2 linked regions of the Homo sapiens genome follow. The protein of the gene in region 2 purifies or fractionates together with the protein of the main gene of each other region. This does not show direct contact. Each region holds a gene or a part of one and is shown on either strand. Other genes may lie near its edges. The genes, in order: PUS7 and REG3A.

The links.
Region 1: the proteins of REG3A (region 2) and PUS7 purify together in Homo sapiens (affinity purification with mass spectrometry; one large-scale study listed by BioGRID and IntAct). This does not show direct contact.

Annotation. Positions count from the first base shown.
Region 1 is NC_000007.14:105,505,265-105,509,078, forward strand, and holds part of PUS7 (pseudouridylate synthase 7 homolog), read right to left. Parts: intron 3,281-3,814; 5' UTR 3,249-3,280; coding exon 2,851-3,248; intron 1,010-2,850; coding exon 925-1,009; intron 793-924; coding exon 691-792; intron 1-690. UniProt on the Homo sapiens protein: Pseudouridylate synthase that catalyzes pseudouridylation of RNAs.
Region 2 is NC_000002.12:79,156,954-79,161,456, forward strand, and holds REG3A (regenerating islet-derived protein 3-alpha precursor), read right to left. Parts: upstream 2,801-4,503; 5' UTR 2,775-2,800; exon of another isoform or gene 2,487-2,774; 5' UTR 2,453-2,486; coding exon 2,377-2,452; intron 1,817-2,376; coding exon 1,698-1,816; intron 1,511-1,697; coding exon 1,373-1,510; intron 746-1,372; coding exon 619-745; intron 341-618; coding exon 273-340; 3' UTR 53-272; downstream 1-52. UniProt on the Homo sapiens protein: Acts as a hormone in response to different stimuli like anti-inflammatory signals, such as IL17A, or gut microbiome. Secreted by different cell types to activate its receptor EXTL3 and induce cell specific signaling pathways.

The sequences.
Region 1 (3,814 bases), on a different chromosome or scaffold from region 2:
AGTGCTGGGATTACAGGTGTGAGCCACCGTGCCCGGCGAACAAAAGCTTTAACAACAAAATTTACTATTCTACTTAGTAGCTGAGCTCTCCTTTTCTTCAATAGCAGAATTGACCCACGATGAGCAAATAAATGCTCCCCTACTTCCTTTCCCCATTTCCTCCCCTTCCCAGAGTCCCAACTGAGGCCAAGAAGCTGCTGAAGCCAGAATCTGACCTGGGTCACATACCTGACAGACAGCAAATGGTGGTCCTGTTACAACGGACATTGTGGTATAATTGGTACTCTGGGATTCTAAACAACATATGTCGCTGTTCATTTGTGGTCCCTAAATTTTTTTTTCAGAGATGATGTCTCACTATGTTGTCCAGGCTAGTCTCCAATTCCTGGGCTCAAGTAAACCTCTGGCTTCAGCCTTCGGAGTAGCTAGGACTTTGGAATAGCATGTAACACTGTACCCAAATAAAAATGTTTTTAAACAAAAATGTAACTTTGGGGGGGGCTATAGTTTATCTGGGATACTAGTTATCTGCCCCAGTAAAAAAATTTTTTAGTGTAATATCCTTTAGATCCAATAGAGCAAAAAGTCACCCTTTGTTAACCATTGTAATTTTTTCCATAAACACTTAACATCCACCCAAAAAGCAACTAAAACCCTAAATAATTTTTCATATATTTTTGCATTAGTTACCTCAATGGCAACACTGGTTTCCTTATTTTTGAACAGCTGGAGCTCTTCCAATCGCTGCTTTTCTTCAGCTGTCAAAACTGTAAATATGTCTTCTGAAGGGTCCTTTAAAATAACCATGAGAACTCACAATGAATCATACATAGAATTCAAGTTTAATAAAGCTCTATATTTCTAAATCTCTAGGAAATGCTATTTTTATACAGAAGGTGACATTTGCTAAAGAGCTACTTCTACCTCCTCATCCACTGGAATGGACAAGTCATTCAAATGGCTGATCCGTCCATCTTTTCCTATTTCATGAACAACGAAGTCGGAGTATCTGATGAAAGAAAACATGAACTTTCAGATAATTAACATCCTGTTTTCTATTAATTTTAAGATAAAGTTGATCAACAGCAAGCCTTACTATTATGCAAAACAAGGAATTTTAAAAAATCTTCAGTGCAAAATCACATGGAGTTAATTTTTTTTTTCTTTTTTTTTTTTGAGATGGAGCCTTGCTCTGTTGCCTAGGCTGGAGTGCAGTGGCTCGATCTCCACTCACTGCAACCTCCGCCTCCTGGGTCCAAGTGATTCTCCCGCCTCAGCCTCCCGAGTAGCTGGGATTACAGGCACGTGCCACCACGCCCAGCTAATTTTTGTATTTTTAGTAGAGACGGGGTTGCACCATTTTGGCCAGGCTGATCTTGAACTCCTGACCTCAAGTGATCTGCCCATCTTGGCCTCCCAAAGTGCTGGGATTACAGGCGTGAATCACCACATCCGGTCTTTTCTGGTTTCTTAATGAATGCTGAGCCATACCTTGGCTCAAGTTTTATATGAGAACTTAAAGAAAAGACCCTCTTAGCTTCTAGAATATTCTTCCAGAGAAATGCAAAAACAAAAGCTTATTAACATTACCCTATGACGATTCAGGCAGCCCACACTAAATTAAATCACAAAATATGCTATATGGTTAATTGAATCAGAACCCAGTAAGTCTACCATGAACTAGCCTGAAGCTTACCTTTATGTTAAATATTTTACATGCATTATTCAAAATCCTCAACAACCCCAATGTGGTAATATGATCCATTTAAAAATTTTATTTTATTACTATTATTTTTTTTGAGACAGAGTCTTGCTCTGTTGCCCAGGCTGGAGTGCAGTGGCTTGATCTTGGCTCACTGCAACCTCCGCCTCCTGGGTTCAAGTGATTCTCCTGCCTCAGCCTACCGAGTAGCTGGGATTACAGGCGCGTGCCACTACGCCAGGCTAATTTTTGTATTATTAGTAGAGACAGGGTTTCGCCATGTTGCCCAGGCTGGTCTCAAACTCCTGACCTCAAGTGATCTGCCCGCCTTGGCCTCCCAAAGTGCTGGGATCACAGGCGTTAGCCACCGTGTCTGGCCTGATCCATTTTTTAAATAAGGATGCTGAGGTTCAGAGAGGCTAAGTAACTACTAAGTAGCGAACTTCACACTGGGATCCACCTGGCTCCAAAGACTACCTTCTTCTAACATAGTTGTGGCACATTCAAATGAAAAAAGAGTTTAAGATTATAAAACAAACTCAGGAGAAAATCTGAAACCATTTAAATGAATTTATTCATTTACTTATTTTTTTGAGACAGAGTCTTGCTCTGTCACCCAGGCTGGAATGCAGTGGTGCAATCTCGGCTCACTGCAACCTCCACCTCCCAGGTTCAAGCTATTCTCCTGCCTCAGCCTCCCGAGTAGCTGGGATTACAGGTGCCCATCACCACGCCCAGCTAATTTTTGTATTTTTAGTATAGATGTGCTTTCACCATGTTGGCCAGGCTGGTCTCAAACTCCTGACCTCAAGTGATCCGCCAGCCTCGGCCTCCCAAAGTGCTGGGATAACAGGCGTAAGCCACTGTGCCTGGTGAATGAATTTATTTGAGGCATGATCATGCCACTGCATGCCAGCCTGGGTGACAGAGTGAGACCCTCTCTCAAAAAAAGGGAAAAAATTAATTAATTAAAATTTAAAAATCCAAGGCTATTTATTCAGGCAGGTTTCCTTCATCCTATTCCTTTTGATCAGTAGTATAAACAAGCCTTGGAGATGGAAAGCTAAGTGGAAGAATATAAAGCTAATTTCTTTCTAAAGAAGAAACCTAATACAATCAAAATAACTTTATTCATAAACTAAATGTACCTTTCTTTTAAGATTCCCGAGAACCCTTGATGAGAACTCACAAACTTGGTGATGCCTACGTCAGCCTCAGTGAGTCCATGCTTCATCATGTCTGCAAAACTCTCTGATTCCTCCTCCTCGCACTCCTCTGAAAGTCCATCTTCCTCCTCTTCTTCCTCATCTTCCAACTGAGCCTCAGAATTCTTTCCACCTTTCCCAGTACTGACAGTGTCAGGAGGCCGAGGCACGTCTTCACTGATGGACAGAAAGTCATTCTGTAGCCCATCTTGACCTTTGGTTAGACTGCATTCCGACAGCTTCTGTTTTTTTGTCTCTTCAACTGGGACTCCACTGTCATTATCTTCGACAACCAGTGCCCCACGTTTCAGCGACACACCAGTCATTTCTGTCATCTCCATCTTTAAGGCTCCAAGAAAACATTTAAGAAAACCTGTTAGGAAAGAGTAGAAAGTAACAATCACCTATATAAAAGCTGGTTTCAGGCCGGGCGCGGTGGCTCACACCTGTAATCCCAGCGTTTTGAGGGAGGTTAAGGCAGGCAGATCACTTGAGGTCAGGAGTTCAAGACCAGCCTGGCCAACATGGTGAAACCTCATCTCTACTAAATATTAGTTAGGCGTGGGTGGCAGGCGCCTATAGTCCCAGCTCTTGGGAGGCTGAGGCAGGGGCATTGCTTGAACCCGGGAGGCAGAGGTTGCAGTGAGTTAAGATAGTGCCACTGCACTCCAGCCTGGGCGACAGAGTGAGACATTGTCTTAAAAAAAAAAAAAAAAAAAAAAAAAAAGGTCAGGCACGGTGGCTCACACCTGTAATCCCAGCACTTTGGGAGGCCGAGGTGGGCGGATCACAAGGTCAGGGGTTCGAGATCAGCCTGGCCAACATGGTGAAACCCCATCTCTACTAAAAATACAAAAAAAAAACTAGCTGGGCGTGGTGGTAGGCGCCTGTAATCCCAGCTAGTCAG
Region 2 (4,503 bases):
TTTGTCCTTCTCAGAGTATGGCTATGACACTGGCATATACAAGACAAACAAGTGCAGACTAAAAATTTTATTGCTCTTTAAAGCCTTAGGCCGTATGACAAAATGAAGAGACTGAAATGACAGCGGGGAGGAAGAAACAGAAGAAAGATAAGAATGAGGTGGTCAGGTTGGGGGAATTAAGCGAATATTCTCTTCCAGGGTGAGTCCTCACACTGGTCTCATGCCCATGATGAGTTGCACACCAAACACAGGCTGCTGACTTCCCTCCTGCACTAGTCAGTGAACTTGCAGACATAGGGTAACCTCACATTACAGTTATAATCTTTCCACCTCAGAAATGCTGGAGAGACAGAAGACATAAATGGAATGGGGCTGAGGAAGCTTGTGAATCCAATGAAGGGGCATCCCAGGTTTTAGCCTAGAAGTTAAAGCCTCTCCCTCACCTTCACCAGTGTCCCAATCCAGGAGAGAGATTCAAAGAAAGTGGAGAAGAGAGGAGATAAGAGAAGACACACTAACATTGTATTTTCTAGCTCAGGAAGATTTCCTGAAGGTCAGACCCAGGAATGGGGGATGAGATGGAAAACACTGGGAAGAGGCAGCTCCTCTGTTTCTTACCTGTGCTTCTCGACAGGCTCGCACAGTGGCCGGGGCTTGAGATGGTGGAGGGATTTCTCTCCCATGCAAAGTAATTCATCACATCACTGCTACTCCACTCCCAACCTTCTCCATTGGGCTCGGTGCCCTGTAGAGTAGAGGAGGTAGCCAGGTGAAGGGAATGGCCATTGCAGCTCTTCTTGCATGGCCCCTTAGCTGCAACACCTGATTTGCTCCCCAGCATGAGGAAAGTTGGTCTGCTATTCCAGATGCTGCCGGTGAGTAGGAAACTCTTCCTTGACTCCTCATTGCTATTGGAAAATTCCAGCCAATAAACATAAGACCTTTGGAACAACTCAAGGTAATATATTATTTGCAGAACAATAATTGATGTAGCATTTGTGATTAGCTTGTGAACCTCAAAAGTAATGTCAGTTCTGTATGGGGACAAAAATTGATCCTATCTTCATTAAGAGTTCCTTCAGAATAGTAGGCAAAGACTCCATGAAGCTCAGAGAATTGTTAACCCAGCCTCATATGAGAATTATGTAATACGCCTGAGGAAGGCAGATTGATTTTATCTGAAAGATAGAGACCTCCACAGAACTCAGATCTTCAGATGCTTCATGGCCTTCCCTTTCCCCCCAAATATTCCCCAGAATCTGAGCTCCAGTGCTCCCTGAAGTACTTCCTGGGCAGGCACAGGGGACAGGGAGTGGGCCTGGGCAACAATAGCACCTTGAGAGGTAACAGAGAGGGGAGGATATACTGGCACCTGTGTGGGGTCATGGAGCCCAATCCAGACGTATGAGTAGCTGTTACCAATGCTCTTCACCAGGGAGGACACGAAGGATCCCTCAGCCCCACTGAGCACAGACACCAGGTTTCCAGAGGGCCGCTTCTGGCAGGCCAGCTTTGAGGGCAACAAAGAGAATGAGAGGGAGCCTGAGACCTGCTGAGGGAGGGCAGGGCAAAGGTAGGTGGGAGGAGGACTGTGTGAAAGATAAACGTGTTCATCCTCATTCCCAAGGAACTCTCCTGAATGGAGACCCTCCTCCCCCTGAGACCGGTCACCTCCAACACCACATCTAACCACTCACATCTGCATCTGTCCAGGATTTTGGTGACAAAAACAAGGCATAGCAGTGGGAGCCATAGGCCTTGGAGCCTTTGGGACAGCGGATCCGTGCAGAGGGCAGTTCCCTCTGGGGTTCTTCACCTGAGGTGGAAGAAGAGGGGGGAGGGTAAAATGAAGAGTGGGGCTTGGGGTGGGAGATGACCTTGGGGAATACCTAGGAATGTCCTTGGGGAGGAAGACCACATTCCTGACACCCCTTCATCTTCCCTTATGTTTTCAGAAATTCTTTATCTCAAAATAGCCGTAGTAAATGGAGCACCATCCAGTCTCTTATTACCCTTTCCCCTTATTCAACCATTCAATACTCTCCTCACTCTGGGCTGTCTCTACATTGGGTCCTCCAATCATTGTCCCTCCCCACATCTCATTACTGACCCTCCAGTGTATATTAGAGTCCACTTTCCCACCAGTGTATATTAGAGTCCACTGACTAAATGGAAGCCATCTCATTCCACTGTTAGTGGACCACCATGGAGCCTCCCACTGCAAGTTAACCTGAAGGAAGGAGAGATGATGCAAGAACTGCAGGCAGGTTCATTAGACACCACGTCATTACCTCACATGACACACAGGAGCCTTCCTCCTCTTGTTAGCTCTGAGGATTCATAGGGAACCCAGTGCTAGAGGCAAAGCAATCTCACCTTGAACCTGAGACAGCAGCATGAGGCAGGAAAGCAGCATCCAAGATACACTGGGCAGGGCCATGGGAGGCAGCATAGTGTCTGCGACTTGAGGAGGCAATCAGGAGTCACTAAAGAAAGCGTGGTCAGTGGGAGAACACACAGATACCCCACTGCCTCATGTCATTTTCCTTCTCTAGTCCCCTAGGACTAAAGTGATCTTGGTCACATCCATCATCTTCTACAGTTCTGAATGAGTTGTGAATCTGTGTACTCTCCCATCCCCGAGCCCTCCCAGGACACCCTTGCTGAGTCTCAGAGTTCCTGTGCTCCCTGAGGAAGGGACCCTCCCATGTATTCTCCTGTGTCATGTGCAGTAGCTCCTCCCTGGGTCTCATCTTCTCTCAGCTCCCACTTACCTCTCTGGTGGGATATGGTATGGTTTGTCTGGTCAGGAAAGAGTGGGATTTTATAAGAGGATCTGGGGGAGGGACATTGGAGTGAAGAGTGACAATGAGTAGGCAGGACAGGGGTCATGGGGTGGGGTTGGCATGGACTCTTCCTGGCAAAGACTGGGGATTTTCCCAGATGTTGCCTCTTTCCTGTTGGCAGGCCAACACTTTCCCTAGGAAGAGGTGAAGTTTGCTTTTTCCTCTGCATCCTCCTTGTCAAAGGCCTGTGGCACCAAATGTGATATGAAATCTTCTAATGTGGACATCTGAAAGAGGAGTTCCTCTGGTGGGTTTCTTAAGAACCCACTTCTGGAGGCAAACCTATGTATTTCTTATTACCTTGCCTAGTAAGATTAAATAAATGTTAGGTGTTAAGTGAAGATTTACGGGAATTATAAGTATCATGGACAGTTGAGGACATAGATGGTACTGAAGCTAAGAGTAGGAGTGAGGGTTCAGGGCCATTATGCAAGCATGATAGCTAATTTTGATGAAACTTCAGAATTGTCTGACAAGTCAATACATGAGCCACAATCTTACAGAAAATCAGGTGAATGGACTTGTCTTTCCAGTCTTCAGCAAGAAAGAGCTTCCCCAGTGGAGAATGACAATGGCAATGTGATAGAATAAGAGGTAATGAAGGAAAACAAGACATAAGAAGGACTACAGTCAAATAATGAGGATCAAAGAAGAATGAATAATAGTTAAAGAAGGGAAGAGCAGCCATTGTGTAAAATCATAGGTCAGTTGGCCAGGTGCTGTGGCTCAGGTCTATAATCCCAGCACTTTGAGAGGCTGAGGTGGGAGGATCACCTGAAGCAAGGAGTTCAAGAGCAGCCTGGGCAACACATTAAGACCCTATCTCTACAATTTATATTTTAATTTAAGCCAGTTGCGGTGGTGTGTGCTTGTGGTCCTAGCTACTCAGCAGGCTGAGGTAGGAGGACCTTCAGTTGAACCCAGGAGTTCAAGGCTGCAGTAAGTTATGATCATCCCACTGCACTCCAGCTTAGGCAACAGAGTGAGAGCCTATCTCTAAATTTTTGTTTTGTGATGTTGTAAACATAATTCTGAATTGCATGTAAGTCTCTATTACATCAAAATGCTCACTACTTGTAGGTTGCTCATGAGCTTCCTTGCTGGACTGCCATTTGGCTGTACATTAAAAGCCCTTTTCATTGCATTCTTACTGGGCAAATGGTCAGCTTCATATGGGTATACTGGGAGAAGTTCTTTTAGTCATGTTTATTTTTGAGTTAGCAGTTTGGTGCCTCTGACAAGCATACTACATTGCCCATACACTGGTTCAGGTTCAGTTTGGCCAGTCCAGGAAAAAGTTAGGCTGGGAATTTCTACAGACCCTGACTCTCATGCTATTGTTGTAATATGCCAACTTGTATGCAGATGTTTATAGTAGGGGTCTGTGACGAGGTCATGAGATGTAGCTCATCCTTAATTCACGTCCTCAAAATTCAGTACCCAAAATTCAATGCAATTCCTCAAATAATATGAGAAGAAATATAGCCAGCAGATTATTTTGTTAAAAAGGATTTTTTTCCACAAAATTTATACAACAATATGTAAACACATGGAGGTACGGGGTAGAAGGTAACCAGAGGGTAGAATAGTTACCAGAGGCTGAGACGGGTGAGGGGAGATGAAAAGAGTTTAGTTCATCGTACAAACATACAGCTAG